Regions from separate parts of the Homo sapiens genome. Here region 1 is linked to region 2. The links come from fine-mapping of genetic effects on gene expression. A gene starts in region 2. The other region holds a variant in brackets. All regions are shown on one strand. Distances are from middle to middle.

Region 1 (8,689 bases), 950 kb after region 2:
TTTTAACTCATTAATTTAGATGTAAAACAGCTAACAAAATATTAATGAATCAAACCCAAAAGAGTATATGAAAGACAATATATCACAACCAAATGGAATGTATTCCAGGTATACAAGGATGGTTTATTATTAGAAAATCCATAAATGTACCTTACCATATTTACAGAATAATACAGATAACCAAAAGATCATTTCAATAGATAAGTCTTTCATCAAACTTAAAACCCACTTATGATTTTAAAAACTCTTCTTCAATTAGAAATGAGAAAGGATAGTTCTTAACCTGACTAAAAGCATCTATAAAATAATCCAAAAGTTAACATTATCTTAAATGAGCAAACATTGGAAGCATTCTCTTTGAAATCAGGAATGGCACAAGGAAAAAACTTATTACCACTTTTGTTCATAATTGTACATGAAGTCCTATACGGTATAATGAGGCAATCAGAGATATAAGGATTGGAAAGGAAGAAACAAAATTGTGATTATCTACAGATTATTTGTAGATTATGTGATTTCTATAGAAAACCCAAAGAGTAAACCTTCACATTATTAGACACAACATGGGAATTTAGCAAGGTAACTGCATATAAGATTAATATAGAAGATTCATTGTGTTTTCTCTTTAAATATAGTTTTAATGGCTTGCTGCTGACGAATAGAAACACACCATTTTAAATTCTCTTTCCAATCCCGATTAAACTAGACCACAGAGCCAAAAGTTCATTGCAATTTAATAGTTTTTTCTTTTGTTCTGCTTTGAGAGCAGAATCTCCTAAAACCCAGCTCTAAACTCAGGCATGTGATATGTTGTCTGATATCATTTTAAAGACAAAAGTAAAAACCCCAAAAAACAAAAAAAAAAATGATGCTGCTAAACCATCTCAGAATTGTAGTCTTCAGTACAGAATTACAGCAGGTGCTCTGCCCTTAGTGCTAGTGCTGGGAATCACATGTGCTTTCATCTATTATCTGAAAGTTTTCTAATTTTAAAAATTTTCATCTCTCATGATGAAAATAAATAGTTGTTTAATTTGAAAAGTAAGATGCTAAGTGTGAGTCAAAACAAATCTATGTGACTTTGAAATGGGGGTGATATTGGAGCCTAGATTTTATTTTCTTCTTTTTTCTCAAGAGTAATAATTTCCTCAGGACACTGAAAAACCAACTCAGAAAGCAAGTGGCTGAAGGTATGTGTAGTTCATGTGCCCATAACTATCAAGTAATTTAAATTAATAGAATAGTTAGCGTAATTACTGAGTAGAGAAATAGGTACTACATCATCTAGCTGTGCATGTCCAAACTCCTATCACTAAATCAGATGTTAGACTTTCCTTTTAAGGACATTGCTTTGCTACATTTCTTGGAGAAGATTTGTTTTTGTGTTTCTTATAAAGAAATTCAATGAATTAAAATGTCCCATGGATTAATGGGGAGCTTAAACTTCAAAAGTTTCCTTCATTATTTCCTTAGCATTAACACAGGAAATCAATTAGGTCATAAAGATAGGTCTTATTATCAGAATGTTCTCCACGATTTTGAACATAATAGAGAAAGAATGCTTCATATGGTAACATCAAAGCTTAAACTAGTAGGACTTATTGTATTGGTTAGAAGATGATACATTTCATTTCTCTTTTTACAAAAGGAAGGGGTTGACTATTGCTTAATGGGTTGTATAAAAGTCTCTTATGCTTTGAGTCTGTTATTGCATCTGCATTTTATGAAAAACTCATATTTTGGGCTTAGCAGATGGACTCATTTGAATTAGATTTGCTTGAAAGAGTCTTTCCAAATTATACTATTTAAAAGATTAAAGTAGTAGATTTGCCTCAAGATTTTCTAGAACAATGGTTAAGCCCAAGACCCCTTAGGATAAAGACATGGTTGTAACAAACACCCAGAACTCTCTTAGGTGGTAGGGGCAGAATCCTTCTAGGAAACCCACAGTGCTTACCTCAAAGCCATGGGAAAAAAAGCTCATGTTTTTCTGACTGACTGACCCAGATTCTTCAGCTGCAAAGCAAGTAGCCTATGAAATTTGCTTTTAATTTCCAAATAAAATCCATTTGACTAACACTCAGCATCCCAACATATTGCAAAAACAGAAATTTCACAACACTAACTAAACATAGTACATATTTGCTGCAAACATTTCATGAGATGGGGTCAGTTGCTTCAGAAGATAAACTGTTTCAGAGAAACAAAAAAACCCCTCAAATGCTAGCAATTCTTTCTGTTTTTAGGCTTTTAATAAAATATGTGGGAAGTGGTCACAGAGACCTGAGGATCCTGGTAAGAATTTATTTTTAAAAGCAGTTGTCGAAACATCCTAGTTATTTTCTACTTTTTAATTAGAAGAATACAATTCTTGTTCTTATGCACAAGTTCTGTGAACATAGATTTAAAAGAAACCTGAAGGCTTTTGGGGAACAACGTGCTCACTGGGGGAATTAGCTGGATGGAAAGAAAGCTGAATGGGGCAAAATGAATAGTTTTTAGTACACTCAAGATCCAATTTGAAAAGCAGTCTAGGAAAAAAAATTAAGTGGAATTGGCCAACTTTGGTCCAATACATTTTTCTATTCTGGGTAAGAGAAGTAATGGGGACATGGGATAATATGACTTTTTCCTTCTCTTTCCTTACTTCTACCTTCCCTCCCTCCCTCCTTCCCCACTCTCCCTTCTTTCCTTCCTTCCTTCCTTCTTTCCTTCCTTCCTTCCTTCCTTCCATAACAAACTAAGGAAAGAACATCATCAATGATGGGCATATAGATAGACCTATGAAAAGCAAATTGACTTACAGATATTCTTTGTTATTAATAAAGGGGTGCTTTGCCTGGAGACACTTCAGGAATCCAAGGATGAGCTTTGGTGGTTGATGAAGTCCCTAAATTCTCAACATATGCAATTTGCATTTTTCTAGGAAGAATGAACTTTTGTCTTTCACCAGATTCTCAAGAGGCTCCATGACCTTGAAAAGTATAAGGACCCTTAGTAGAAAGCCTTTAAAGCAAATGCAATAGTTAAACACTGCTATAATTTTTAAATGATATTTTAGAATACCTATGAATTTCTTAAAACATTTTTTCAAGCAACTTCAGATTAGAATTTTTCTTGTAGCACTACTAAAACAGGACTTTTTTCTACTTAAAATTCTCTATCTCACTAAAATTAGTGGGCAGAAGTTTGGGGGAGAAAAAGGAATTTGCATAGTCTTAAATGATCTCCTTCAAAGTTTTATCTATATAGGGAAAAATAATAAATTTACAGTGGAGAAAGCCAGCATATACCACATTAGTCAAGTGTAATGAGACATATATGTACCATTAACCCCTTGATAAGATTCCTTGAGAAAGAAATGACATCATTTCTGTGGTATTATTGCCAGCAATGCAGAACTTCCTTCTAATGTTGACACAAAAACCAGAGAAACCCAAACCGAGAGACATTCTACAAAATAACTAATCAGTAATCTGCAAAGTATCTATATCAAGAAAGATAGAAAAATTGAGGAGCTGTTATGGATCAGAGGAGACTGAGGGGTATTACAACAAAATACAAGGTAGGATCCTGGTGGAATCCTGAAATGAAAAAAAA[G/AG]AACATTAGTGAACAAACTGGTGAAAGTAGAATAAGGTCTCTAGTTCAGTTAATAGAATTATATCAGTGTTAATTTCCCAGTTTTGATAATTGTCCTATGTTTATGTAAAATGTTAACAAAAGGGGAAGCTTCATGAGTGGTATACAGGACTCTTTTACAAGTCTTGATACATTTTCTATAATTCTAAATTTAGTGCAAAATAAAAAAAAATAATAAAACAGAAAACCTGATGACATCATTTTAACTTTTGGGCCCACTTTTGCCTGAATTCTGACAATCTTCTAACAGTGCAACTAGGTAAGACAATACATTCCCTCTTTTCTTAAAAGATTAAGACAAAATAAAATAGTCTTTCTTCTTTGTTACTCTAGGCAATGTACTTGAGCTCATTAATGCCCTACAAATATGTTAAATTATTTTGATCTTTCCTCTCTCTTTGATTTTGTTGAGTTATAAATATGGATTCTCATTTGACTAAGCATCCTTGATTCAATTGTCCTTTATTCTTGACCTTGGACACAAGATCATACTTTTGTGTCACATCTAGGCATGGATCATTGACTTAAAGTTTCTGGCTATTGATTTTTATGTGTTTAATAATTACTAGAAGATCAGTTATGACCTTTTGTTATTAAGTTGGAATAGATTGCCTTTTCTCTTTTTCATAATTTTTGCAGAATGCTTCCTAGTAGACATACTATATTGTTTACTATCAGACATCTAATAGCTCTTTGTACCAAGAGGATGTGTAGGTTATCTTACACTGTTCCTCCATCTTTCATTCACTTAAAAAATACTTGAGTGATTACTAAGTGTCATTATTTTTCAGATGAGAATAAGACAAGCAAGATCTCTTCTTGTTCATCACCATCATATCTGTATTTCACCCCATAGAAGGGAGGAAAAAGGGAGTTTGGAATTAGTGGCTTTGCATTTAGAGATCACTTGGAAGTTGCACACATATAAGTTCTGCTCATATCCATAGCCCAAACTTAGTTGTGTGGCTTTACCTCATTAGAACAAAAGAGGCAGTCACGTACTCTTAAAACTTGCTGGAGGAGGCTGAGCGCGGTGGCTCATGCCTCTAATCCCAGCACTTTGGGAGGCCGTGGCAGGCGGATCATGAGGTCAGGAGATCGAGATCATCCTGGCTAACGTGGTGAAGCCCCGTCTCTACTAAAAATACAAAAAATTAGCCGGGCGTGGTGGTGGTCGCCTGTAGTCCCAGCTACTTGGGAGGCTGAGGCAGGAGAATGGTGTGAACCCAGGAGGCAGAGCTTGCAGTGAGCTGGGATTGTGCCACTGCACTCCAGCCTGGGCGTCAGAGTGAGCGTCTCAAAAAAAAAAAAAAAAAAAAAAAAACTTGCTGGAGGAGATCATTATTTTAAAGAAAACAGAGAATAAGGAGATATCTGCCACACTGGATTTTAAATGCAAGACTCATAAATACTGATCTGCTCCTTAAAAACTTCACTCTAATAGCTTTGTGGATAATGGAGTTCAGTGGAGCAAAAACAGAAATTTGGAGACCAGTTAGGAGGCTATTTGCAGTTGCTTAGGTGGTAGATCATGGTGGTTACTTGGGAGTTGGCATGATACACATTCAATGTTAACCAGTAACAAGTTAAAGTCTCACTTGGATAATGAAATCATTGTAAAATTTAATAAAATATAGAGTATTACAGTTGCCTTTACATAATCATTGTTTCCTATACCTGGAGGCTGATTGTATTATTATATATACAATTATTTTACAAGTAAATATAATAATTTACTTTGGTTTTATTTTGACCACCAAGCTAATAAGTCTGATTGGCTTTTCAACATGATATTAGCTGAAAGATGAGTTAATAAGTTTTTGTCATCATGCAAGTGAGAGATGATAGTGGCTGGACTAAGACTGTAGTAGTGTGGATAGAGAAAAGAAGGAAAAGTTAGGATATACAGTATTAACAGGTATAGTCACAGAACTAGCAGATGGAATGTGAGAGGTAAGAACAAGAGAAATTAAAAATGGCTCATAGGTTTTAGCCTTTATCAATTTGGTGAGTGTTTCTGCCATTTACTGAGACGTAGACAATGGAGAAGAAATGGGTTTCCAGGAGTGAGCTGAAATCAAGATTTACATTTTGGTCATCTTATGTTTAAGATCTCTAACAAAAAACAAAATTAATATTCAATAGCTGATTAAATATAAAAGCCTGGGGTTTAGGTACCAGGTCAAGGGAAAGATAATCTATAAACTGACTGGGAGTTCATACGACACAAATGTTCCTGGGAATTTTGAAGGGTGAAGTGAAGCAAATAAACCCAGGAGAAAGTGGAAAGTTCCAGGAGATGGGTCCTGCAGCAATACCAATAATAATGAAGTCTCAGAGTGAGTAGGCTGGGCTTACTTGCTGAACTAATGGCTCTACCTTTGGTAGCATTCACAGATGGAGAGGTGCCCATTCTCCACAAAATACTTAAATTTTTATGGTGACTCTACATAATTAAGTGGATAATGGCAACAGTGGATAGGGATGTCCTAGAATTCTTTTTAGAAAGAGCCACCTCAAATAATGTGCAGTTCATAAGCCGTCAGCTTCTGCCCTTTGCATACTCCACATTCTTTTGCACTATGGTGTCTTTCTTCTTAACTCCCCAGACCTGCTCACTGAGACCTGGTAAACTTTCAAGGTCAGTTGATATTTTCATCAGGATAGGTCAGTAGAACTTTGCAAGCATATCATAATGCTTGGAGGCATCATTTGTGCATTCTTGAACTTGAGTCTAGGTCCAAAGATTTTACAGGAACACACTGAACTTTTTGGAGCTGGTCTCTCATAGGTAATGACAACACTCCAGATAGACAACCAGGAGTAAAATTGGGAATGATGAAGTGTTACTTTGCAGTGCTTGCCACTTTGAACTTTTTATTTGGTCTCCTACAGCCTACTCTTCTGTCTCTTTCCCTTCCCATCTCATCTTTTATCCTCTTGTATCACTTTTTAACAGTTCATCACAAAGGGAAAGTAAGAATTGGATGGCCTCCCTCTCATTTTGTAACACATTGGACTAAAAGTGGATCTTTGAGAGTAATCATTTCCAGAAAGGACTTGCATTGTGTGCCAGTAAATTGACTATTACCTCCAAATACATGAGCATGTAGGGGCATTGTGTGTTGGGTTGGGAGGGGTGTTATTTTTTTTTTTCTCTTGCCAAGACACAGTGCTGTTTTCCTGTGCTCCTGGTCTTTATTTTGGGAGAACCACATCTTCTATCTGATGAAACATTTTAATAAAATCAGAAGCCAACATGCCTTCTATTCTAAGTTCTCTCTCTCACTTTCCTCTTAAGCTCCAGGTCATTATGTAAAAATCAAAGCAGAAATGCTCCTTTATTCACTTATTTGTTGTTCAGTCATTTATTGTTTATTGAATACCGATGCCTGCTCTGCACTGTAGTGAGAATTTCAAGAACTTTGAGATAGTTTTATGGTAGTTGTTTCTGTAGTGTTTAAGATTTTTCTTAGGATGATAGAACTTATGCTTTAACCATCTAAAATATAATTATAAGCTAATATTTGATTATGTTTGTAATTGGGTGGGTCAGTCTCAAGCCATGAATACTCAGGAAATTCAGAATAAGATACAAACTATAGTGGGCATAGGATTGGTAACTGGTAACTTTTTAGAAGAGAAACTCTTTAAGTAGCCTTGAAAGAAGTTTAGGGGTTGGGCAGGTCACACAGTAGATAGATTACAATCCTTTGCCAAATTTCAGTCCCTATTTTTTTATGTGAGTGGGAAAGCCTCCAAGGATTCTAGGAGATAGTCTTGGTTCTGATCCTTCTTATGTTAAAAGTTATCCATCAACTTCTGCAGTGTGTTTTGCTCATTATATTCAAGTCTTTTCTCCGCGTAGTAAGCGTCTTAATTTCAAGGTCTATTTCCGTCCAATCTTAGCATCCCTCTTGGCAATTGGCACAATTTTCTGAATTCCTGACAGATTGCTTTTGGGGAGTGAGAAATAAGTAAAATAATGTCATTCAGGTAAGGTCCAAGTTACATTTTCATTCTCCCTTGAGGTAGTTGCTTGGGAGCTCATTAAGAATGGACCACAGTCAAAGCTCTGGAAAATTCAGTCCAAATTCTGGGCCAGGCTGTGTTGGAAAGTCTTCTTCTAGACAGATATCAAGGGAGCATCAAAGGCTGACAAATAGCAAAAGCAAATACTAGAGATGAAAGGGCCCTTTCATGATGACCTCAAAGTTAGTCAACACTCATTCAGGTGCCTTGGAGAAAGGCATACCATAGTATTGAAGAGCATGATCTTTGGAGCCAGGATGCTTGGGTTCAAATTCAAGTGGTGCCCACTTCTTCCTAGCAGCTTGACCGGACATATTAATTAAGCCTTCTCTGTCTCAGTTTCCTCATCTTAACCTGAAGATAGTAACACCACCTTTTCCATAGCACTGTTGTGAGGATTAAACAAGACAGTATCTATAAAGTGCTTAGAAATGTCCCTGGCCATCATCGTCATCATCAAATTTTTATTTAGAAAGCAGGAATAAAATGGAAACATAAGGATTATTTTGGAAAGAGAAATATGTGGGTGGTTTAGGTAAGGAAGGAATAATGAATGAAATATTTTAAGTGCTAAGCTGAGTAGTTTAGTAGACAAAGGTGATCAGTAATCACTGGGTAAGATGTTTCAGCCTCAGATCTACGGGCCAAATCATCTGGAATTAGAGACTTAGAGACTCAGAGCCAGGGATTGGTTTGGTGATGGTGGAGGAGGCAACTTAAATATGGCAAAGAGAGCAGATAGCCAACCATGAAATTCCATTACATGCTTAGTGTGCAGAGGACTTTTATAGCAAAGTAAATATTTGTACCCCTATTTAGTCAGCAAACATTAAGGTGTTCGGCTAGTATTATCAAAGCAAATAACTTCATCATTGTATCTGTCCTCATAGAGTTTATGGTTTTGCAGGTAGCCAGATTTTTAACAACTTCAATAAAGTGTGATGGATGTGAAGAGGGAGAAGCCCAGATGGCTGTGGAAAGCATCTCCTGGTCTGTTTCTCTCTCTGCCCACTCCATG
Region 2 (8,689 bases):
AAAATACTAACATTGGTTTTCCAGAATCTAACTTCTGTGAAAGAAAACTATACGGTGCACCATATCATGTGTAGAAAAAAAGGACCACTATACACAACGAACATATCCACACGTGTTGTGTCAACGTTCTCTTCCCAAATGTGGCCGCAGAAGAAAGTGCGAAGCATGCTGAAATAAGACAGTATTTACGGCTAAGGAAATTCGGCTTCACATACCGGTAATTATGAACAAGATATTTTCCCTAATAAAATTACTCCAAAACGAAATATAGAGAAACTGTTTCCCTATGTTCTCTTTATTTTATACCATGTGCTCAAGAATGGTCACAGAAAAGAGTCAAAGGGAGCAGAGAGAGAAAGAAAGAGAGCTATATAGAGAGCCGGCCTCTGCTGAGGGTTGGTTTTGCTTTAGAAACTGGAATGTGTCCAGGCTTGATTTTTATTTTCAATTCACATTTCAGATCCAGCTCCCCAAACTCTTTGATCTTTCTCCCTGTCTCCTTACCCGGAAGAGAACCCTTGGCCTTCTCAGCTGGGAGCTGGGAGCACACGTGGAAAGACTGGCTCAGATCCATATTCTTGCCAAATTTAGTCACACAAAGGGGCCTGCGAGGGAAAAAAGAAAGGATGAAAGCGGCAGCCGCCGCGACTTCAAAGGCCGCGCCGCCGCGCGGGGCCGTGCGCAGGCGCCTCCCTCAGCCGATATAAGGCACGGCTCGAGCGCGCGAGCGGCCTTTCCGCGCGCGTCCCCGACCCGGGGGGCGGGCCGAGGGACGCGGAGGGCCGGTGGGAAGGAGGGCGAAGGGTTGGATACCGCGGCCGTGCTACCCGCCGGCTTTTCGAGGCCGGTCCCCATGCCAAGTTCAGGCGCCTGAGAAAAGTTTTTCAGAAAGGAGGGACAAGAATGTCACGTCCTGCCCACGAAATGAGCAGTCCTGTGGCCCGCAAAATGACTCCAGCTCCCACCTCCATTCTAGCTCCGTTCTAGGCATTCCCCGTGCGTGGGAGCCTGGGTTCCCGTCACGGAGCGCAGCCGAGCGAGGAGGGCGCGTGGCCGGGCCCTGTCTGGCTCCTTCGGCTCCCCTGTGCCCGCCTTGCGTTCCTGGTTCCCGTGCGCTCTCCTACCGGCGCGATTCCTCTCCCCCTTGGGCAGCCTTAGGACGTGTGCCCTCGCCTCCCAGCTGGCAGAAGGGCGGCCTGCAGAGCGGGGTGGGATGCGCCCCTTCCCCGCGGGCCGCAGGAGGAGGCGGCCCTGTGGACAGCCGCGCCCCGGACCCCCACCCAGCGAGGCAGGGACGCAGGGCTCGGCCTGCACTGGCCCAGCGCTGGGAAAGCCGCAGGAGGGCGCGAGGGGTGGCGGACCCCGCTCGCTGGAGCCCCGCGTGGCTGCGCCGAGCTACAGACGCCAACGGGCGCCGGCCCCGCGGAAGTCCGACGTCCGCAGGCGGCCGGATTTGGGAACGACTTTTTCACGGTCCCACGAGTTCCCTGATACCCCGGAGGGTGGGGGGTTGAGTTTGTTTGTCTTTAGGAGGCGGCAAGAAGAAGGGGAAGAACCCCTGGGACACAAACTGCCATTTCCCTCGCCCCCCTTCTCTCCTTTTCCGCGAAGTCCGTTAAACTGAAGATGCCCACAGCTTTCGTCTCCGGGTGAAGCCGGGGTGGGAAATAGAGGGGGTCGGGGTTCCGCCTCTGGAGTCACATTATTCGTTTTCTAGCCCTTCTCCCTGGCTCCTGGGTATCCTCTTCCGTAGGCCCCGCCACCTCCTTCCTTTTGGATCCCACCAAAGTCGTAGCTGGGAGAGAGTCCAGGCCACACAAAGGGGAAGACCTGGAGCCTGGGCGGGGGTTAGGACCGAGGGGGCGGAGAGGACTCGAGGGGCACCGTGCTTTTCTCTCGTCCTTGTAATTAAGGACTCACTGGACTGTCTGTAGCCGACTCGAGTTGGCAGCAAAATCGCCGGGGGGAGGGGTTTTCTGGTGTGAGTGGGGGTCACTACCCTGTCTCTCCTGCCCGCTCCCGAGCGGGGCTGGGCTCCGCTTACCCAGTGAGCAGCGAGGCCGTCTCTTCTCCCCCGCTCCTCTGTTCTTGTGCGGGGTGGGCGCCTCGCCCCCCACGCGCAGTTGAGGCGACGGCGCCCGATGTAGAAGGAAGTGTTGATATAAAACAAGTTTGTTCCCAAACTAAACCCAAACCAAGCAAAGCCACCAGGAGGGGAAAAACCAACAGCAATCCAGCCAGCCCCTAGCAATTGTTTTCACGGTCGGAATTAAATCACATCAAAACGCCCCCTGAAACCCACATCCTGAAGGAGTGAACCTACAACAGCCAACCTCCAGTCGTTCGCTCGAGTTCACACGAACAACTTGCCTCTAACATCCGAGTGAAGGGGGCGGCGGGTGCCTCTCCCGCACCGCACCCACCACATCCCGGACCTGGGATCCCACTCGCACCCGAAGAGGCGGCTGCTTATGTTAATATCAGCCCCCACACGAATTAGAAAAGACCGCCCGGTGACAGAATTGCTTATGCCAGGAACTACACTGAATCCGTAAGGGAGGGGGAAGAACGTCTTCCCGGGGTTACTTCGCCCCTCCTGCGTCCTCCTGCTGTTTCCAAAAGACAGACTTCATGTGCAAATGTCAACCTCTCTCCCAAACGAAGCTTTAGAAATTTGGGGCGCATGGTTTTTACTAAAGCCCCTTCTAAGTGCTGCTCATCAGAAGATTTACAACAATCCTAAAGACAATCAGCTAACACAAGTTACACCACTGTAAGGAAAACAGCCACGCAAATAGAGCAAGGTGCTGGGTGATTTCGTTAGAAACAATGTTTTCAATGGACGGGGTCTCAGTAAAATACCAAACGCAGCCCCCTACCCTTGGCCCTTCAAGTAAACAGTTTCCCCTAGTTATTGTTCTAAAAATTCCCATCTTCTTGAGCTTCTAATCTTCAGGAAACCTGGAGCATAGGCTCCAAATTACTCGGGGAATCCAGAGTTAACATGAAGGAGAAAGTGGGATCTGAATTAGTTTCAGCACTTAAACAGCGGGGGGGATGTAAGAGTCATCATTTAATCTCTCTTCGGCTTCCAGAAAGTACCCCCTGGCCATTCTGTGTTCTCCCCTCCCCCTCCTGAGGGTTTGATGAAAAGGAACCTCTACTCTGCTTTGGTGAAACTGCATTTTCCACTTGTTTTCCTATTGGTCAAATTGGTGCAGTTATGGGAGGACTTTTGACTGTTTTCCCATGTGTCTTTTAAGAATGGGGCTATAAATGTCTGACACAGCTACACGTTCACCTCTCTGGGACACTACTCACACTGGTGCCTAACTTTAAGGGAAGTGACATACCACCATCATCCAAAAACAAAAATTGGGTTTCTCACACACTGTAGCAGAATATACTCTTTTTCTTCTCTTGAGGCATAGCATTGTCAGCTATTAAAAATGGATTTAATGTTTTAATTTTCCTGGATTCCTTCACCAACCCCTTAATTTCACCCCAATCTTCCAGATAGAATTTACATGTGACTACTGGCCATGTTGTAGGGACCAATTGGATCCTTTGTAAAGTTTTAAAAATTGCTTCCTAGTAAATTCTTATTCCCAAGAAGTAGTCGTTATTAGTAGGTGAAGTCATTAGTGCTCACTTAGATACAGCATTGTAAAAATCTTTACCCATTCAATGTTCAGCAGCCTGAAATTTCACCTTTAGGAAAAAAAGAGGGATCTTTGCCAGACAATTCCTATATAATGGAGCAAAATCTGATTCTGTAGTGTTTTGCTTGTTTTCGATTTAAGGGAGATGAAGATACATTTCTTTATGTCCTTTGTTTACTGTTCTGAAGTTTTACAGATGGTTACTGTATTGGATATAATAATTTTGCCTAGATTTTTAACTGAGGGGGTTTGAGAACCAAGGGACAAAATGTAATGTGTTTTCAAACTTCAGCTTCCCTTCTGCTGTAACTTTCACAAAGTATCTCCTGAAAACTCCTGTCTTTGTACAAAATTCATCAAAGAGACAGTGGAGACTGGGGAATTTTTGAGGTTGTATTCGGATTGGTGTCTTCAAGGGTCCCTTTCAGTTCGCAGTCCAAGGTGCCAGGGACTACCCCGTCCTCCCTCCCTCTTCTGGCTTTGCTCTCCTGAGTCCTTTTGCCTTCTCTTCCCCCTTCTTGGATTATCTTTTCATTCTCGATGAGGTTCCCACACACTGCGGTGTGTGTCTCTGAAAACCCACTGGAGACCTAGCACAACTCTCCGTACATCCCGTGGTGAGAACAGAATGAAAGATATATTGTTTAAAAAGCAATAATTAAAATCTAGTCTTCAGTTCCTTCTTCCTCGTCATATTTTTTCTCCGTAAGCCTAGAGATTTTATTTTCACTAGTGTGTTCCCTTGTCTCCAAAGAGCGTGTGTGTGATATTATATTCGGGAAAGCTACAACTCTCTTTTCCTTGTCCTTCTGTTCTCTCTTAATAGTTGAGCAATGTCTGTTATATTTTCCCCTTTTCCTTTTTTTCTCAGTCCCAGATTCCCGCCTCTCCCCACTGTCAGAGCATCTATCAATGTGGTGTCCATCACAGCGGCAGCGGCTTTCTCTTTCATCTTCCTCCCTCTGCCAGAGCCAGGGAGGGAGAGTGGGAGGCGTCAAGGAGGTAGGGGAGAGACTGGCAGAGGAAAAGGAGTGGGTGGGTGGGGGCCAAGTAAATAGATACTTAGATGATGAAGTCAAGCCACTGCGGCAATGTTTCTTGTCAGTTTCACGCGGGCAAAGCGTGCCTTTCGGTGGGTTATAAGCAGCGCCCGGTCCTTCCTTCTCTCGCCAAGTTGCCTGATCCTTCCCTCCAGGCGCGCGCGCACACACCACACTCACACACCCCAAAACCAAGACTCGTCCTACAGGATCTGGGAAAAGAAAAAGAAAAAAAAGCCCTCAATCACCACCTCCTTCTCGCCGACTCCCCCTCACCCCCCGCCTCCCCTCCAGCGGGCAGCCAAGGAGAGCTAGAGGCGGGGGAGGGGAGAGGGAGGAGAAGCGACGCAAGTGGGTAGCTTTTCAGCGCCGGCGAGGCGCGGGAGGAGGAGAAGCAGTGGGGAGGCGCAGCCGCTCACCTGCGGGGCAGGGCGCGGAGGAGGGACCCGGGCTGCGCGCTCTCGGGCCGAGGAACCAGGACGCGCCCGGAGCCTCGCACGCGGCCAAGCTCGGGGCGTCCCCTCCCCTCGGCCGGGCGAACTCAAGGGGCGCAGCTCTTTGCTTTGACAGAGCTGGCCGGCGGAGGCGTGCAGAGCGGCGAGCCGGCGAGCCAGGCTGAGAAACTCGAGCCGGGAACAAAGAGGGGTCGGACTGAGTGTGTGTGTCGGCTCGAGCTCCGGGCAGAGGCATTTGGGCCCGAGGCCCCCGCTGTGACTCCCCGAGACTCCGCAGTGCCCTCCACTGCGGAGTCCCCGCGCTTGCCGGCAAAAACTTTATTCTTGGCAAACTTCTCTTTCTCTTCCCCTCCTCCTCGGCCCCCATCTTCTGCTCCTCCTCCTTCTCTAGCAGATTAAATGAGCCTCGAGAAGAAAAACCGAAGCGAAAGGGAAGAAAATAAGAAGATCTAAAACGGACATCTCCAGCGTGGGTGGCTCCTTTTTCTTTTTCTTTTTTTCCCACCCTTCAGGAAGTGGACGTTTCGTTATCTTCTGATCCTTGCACCTTCTTTTGGGGCAAACGGGGCCCTTCTGCCCAGATCCCCTCTCTTTTCTCGGAAAACAAACTACTAAGTCGGCATCCGGGGTAACTACAGTGGAGAGGGTTTCCGCGGAGACGCGCCGCCGGACCCTCCTCTGCACTTTGGGGAGGCGTGCTCCCTCCAGAACCGGCGTTCTCCGCGCGCAAATCCCGGCGACGCGGGGTCGCGGGGTGGCCGCCGGGGCAGCCTCGTCTAGCGCGCGCCGCGCAGACGCCCCCGGAGTCGCCAGCTACCGCAGCCCTCGCCGCCCAGTGCCCTTCGGCCTCGGGGGCGGGCGCCTGCGTCGGTCTCCGCGAAGCGGGAAAGCGCGGCGGCCGCCGGGATTCGGGCGCCGCGGCAGCTGCTCCGGCTGCCGGCCGGCGGCCCCGCGCTCGCCCGCCCCGCTTCCGCCCGCTGTCCTGCTGCACGAACCCTTCCAACTCTCCTTTCCTCCCCCACCCTTGAGTTACCCCTCTGTCTTTCCTGCTGTTGCGCGGGTGCTCCCACAGCGGAGCGGAGATTACAGAGCCGCCGGGATGCCCCAACTCTCCGGAGGAGGTGGCGGCGGCGGGGGGGACCCGGAACTCTGCGCCACGGACGAGATGATCCCCTTCAAGGACGAGGGCGATCCTCAGAAGGAAAAGATCTTCGCCGAGATCAGTCATCCCGAAGAGGAAGGCGATTTAGCTGACATCAAGTCTTCCTTGGTGAACGAGTCTGAAATCATCCCGGCCAGCAACGGACACGAGGTGAGCGGGCCGCTGCCCCAGTTCCGAGAGGCGTGGCGGGTCCCTGGGAAACTCAGAGAGGGAGGAAGGGAACGAAGGCGCCCGGCCGCCCGGCTGAGGGTCCCGAGTAGATCCCTCGTTTGTTTTGGGGTGTGTGCGTAGCTGGGCCCCCGGTCCGCAGTGTGTGTGTGTGTGTGTGTGTGTGTGTGTGTGTGTGTGTGTGTAGGATGGGAGGTAGAGGGGCAGGGTAACTTATTCCAAATGGATCAGTTTAGGGGGTTCGGTGGCTGAACGGTTGGTTCGCGGGCAGGAACCCACAATGTTTCGCCTTCGGTCTTTTTGTTGGGCTGAGGGGTGCCGTGCTTTAAAGCGAGTAGGGCTGAATAACGCTACTGATAAATTCTTCCGTGGGACGGAAAACAAAGTGCACACGCTATCTCTTGGTAGATGTCTCTGCAAAAGTGCGTTAAACCACCAAAGGCTTAGGTGGAGACGAGCAGAGCCACAGGCGGGAGGAAGGGGAGGCGGGCGTGGGCTGGGGCAGGCGGGGCCGTCCCTACCACCGGTGAGCCGGGCCGCGGGGAGCAGGCCGGCCGATGGGGCGCGCACCCGGGCTGCGGGGGCGGTGCGGGGTTCAGTCCCTGCGGCCCCAGCGCCTGGGCTAGCAGCTGGGAGCTGTGGGTGCGCCGAGCCGACCCACCGCAAGGGTACACCCTGGCTGTACCGCCCCCAACTCTAGTTTTCTCCAACCGCCATCACTTGGAAACAAACCCACAACTTTTATTTGGGGTTTGGGACCGGATCAGGCCTTAAATCTACGCAGAAGAAAGGCGGAGAAGCAGCGGAAGCCGGGCACTAGTCCTGCAGGGTGGAAGGCGCTTTATCGGGTCTTCTGGCCCGCTGCGGGCGATAGAGCTGGTAACCTGAGTAGAGTAAATAGAGACACGTGGGTGCTGGCTAGAGAAAGCGCGGAGCAGGGCCGCGCTGGAGGGCTGTTTGAAGCCTAGTCCAGAGCTGGTCTAGGGGGCGGATGGACCCTGATACCCGACACTCCACTGGTCACCCTTGTTCCACAACTGGGAAACCCTCTGGAGGAAATCCGGTAGAAAAGTCCTGACACCCGAATGATTTAACCAACGCCTTTTCCCTCCAAAGAAACTTGGAGGATATACCTTTTTTTCCTTAAATGGCATCTTTCTACCCCCAAAAAGAAAGTGTGTGGTTTTGAGGGCGGGGACATTTTGGGTTTTAAACAGCGCGTTTAAGAACACCTCAGATCTGCCTTCTCTATCCCAATGGCAGAGGTGAGTACGAATTTTGAAAGGCTGGGGGCCTGCGTTCAGAGAACAGAATGGTGTTCTTTACCCGTTGAATCCAGTTTGAGCGGGCTGGGGGCGGGGGTAGGGTGCACCTAACCCCGCGTAAAAGATTTGTGACTACTGTGTGCTGGGAAAAGGAGGTCAAAGGGAGGACACACGTCCAGAGAACCGAATAACATCCAAAACACAGGCTTTTTGCCAAACTCTCCTATTTGTAGAGCAGCCTCTCTTTCTACCCATTTTGCTAGTCCTGCCTTAGTCCATAAATAATTTTGCCACCCACTTCATATTCTCCACAATTTTCTGGTCCGGGTGAAGGACACTGCGTTCGAATCCGAGAGCACTCGGGTGTTAAGTGGGCATGAGGAGGCCTGAGGGTGAAGGAGTAATACCACTGATTTGCACGTGTTTGAGGCTGTCTGGGTGGATGGTGATTACCAAAACTGATATCAACTGGGCTACCTTTTAGATGTCTATAACCTGACTCTCTAATTTTCCTCCCTTTAACCACAGAATCGTTCTACTTTTGTAAGCCTGCACTCAGCCAGCCATAGTAGGTTATAAGCTCGAGTGGAGCTTCTGCTGTAACTGCGCTCAGGGCAGTTGCCTTAAGACCGCATCTGAGTGGTTGGCTTGTTTATGTTTAAATGCCATTTTCAGTTGCAAAATGATATTTCAGCCTTCTTTTAATCAGATCTGATTGAAGTGAACAGTGGTTGAAGAGGCTATCGAAACCATCAACCCCATTAACTCCTACTCCTGTAATATTAGGCATCCAAGGAGCCTTGATATGGTTTAATAAACAGCAGTCAGAACAGCATGTGGATCATTCCCAAATTTAACTATATTTTTATTGGTTTTGTTATTATTTATACGTTTTTGGTCCCGGGTGGATAATAATCACTCAAAAATACATGTTGAC

Direction of the effects. Positions count from the first base shown, and alleles are read on the strand shown. Sizes are in standard deviations (SD) of each study's normalised expression.
As copies of AG replace G in region 1, the expression in esophagus muscle of the gene that starts at base 5,092 in region 2 goes down (small effect, 0.39 SD a copy in GTEx).

Evidence for each region. PIP is the estimated chance that this variant, and not a neighbour inherited with it, causes the effect.
Region 1: its variant is fine-mapped to the expression of LEF1 in esophagus muscle (GTEx, PIP 0.99).

What each region holds. Positions count from the first base shown.
Region 1 is chr4:107,214,561-107,223,249 of GRCh38, reverse strand. No RefSeq gene overlaps it. Among named protein-coding and RNA genes, the nearest start is that of DKK2, 180 kb to the right of the region's middle. The variant G/AG (reference allele first, on the strand shown) is at 3,601.
Region 2 is chr4:108,165,335-108,174,023 of GRCh38, reverse strand. LEF1 (lymphoid enhancer binding factor 1) reads left to right here and starts at 5,092. Exons shown (of 12, transcript NM_016269.5): 1 at 5,092-6,469. The coding sequence starts at 6,257. LOC124900752 reads right to left here and starts at 6,085. Exons shown (of 2, transcript XM_047416528.1): 1 at 5,122-6,085; 2 at 3,054-4,914. The coding sequence starts at 5,524. The coding sequence ends at 4,328. LEF1-AS1 (LEF1 antisense RNA 1) reads right to left here and starts at 6,499. Exons shown (of 3, transcript NR_029374.1): 1 at 6,191-6,499; 2 at 505-605. RefSeq lists silencers at 627-816, 1,057-1,306, 5,093-5,142, 6,899-7,138 and enhancers at 2,702-3,332, 5,403-5,492, 6,520-7,021.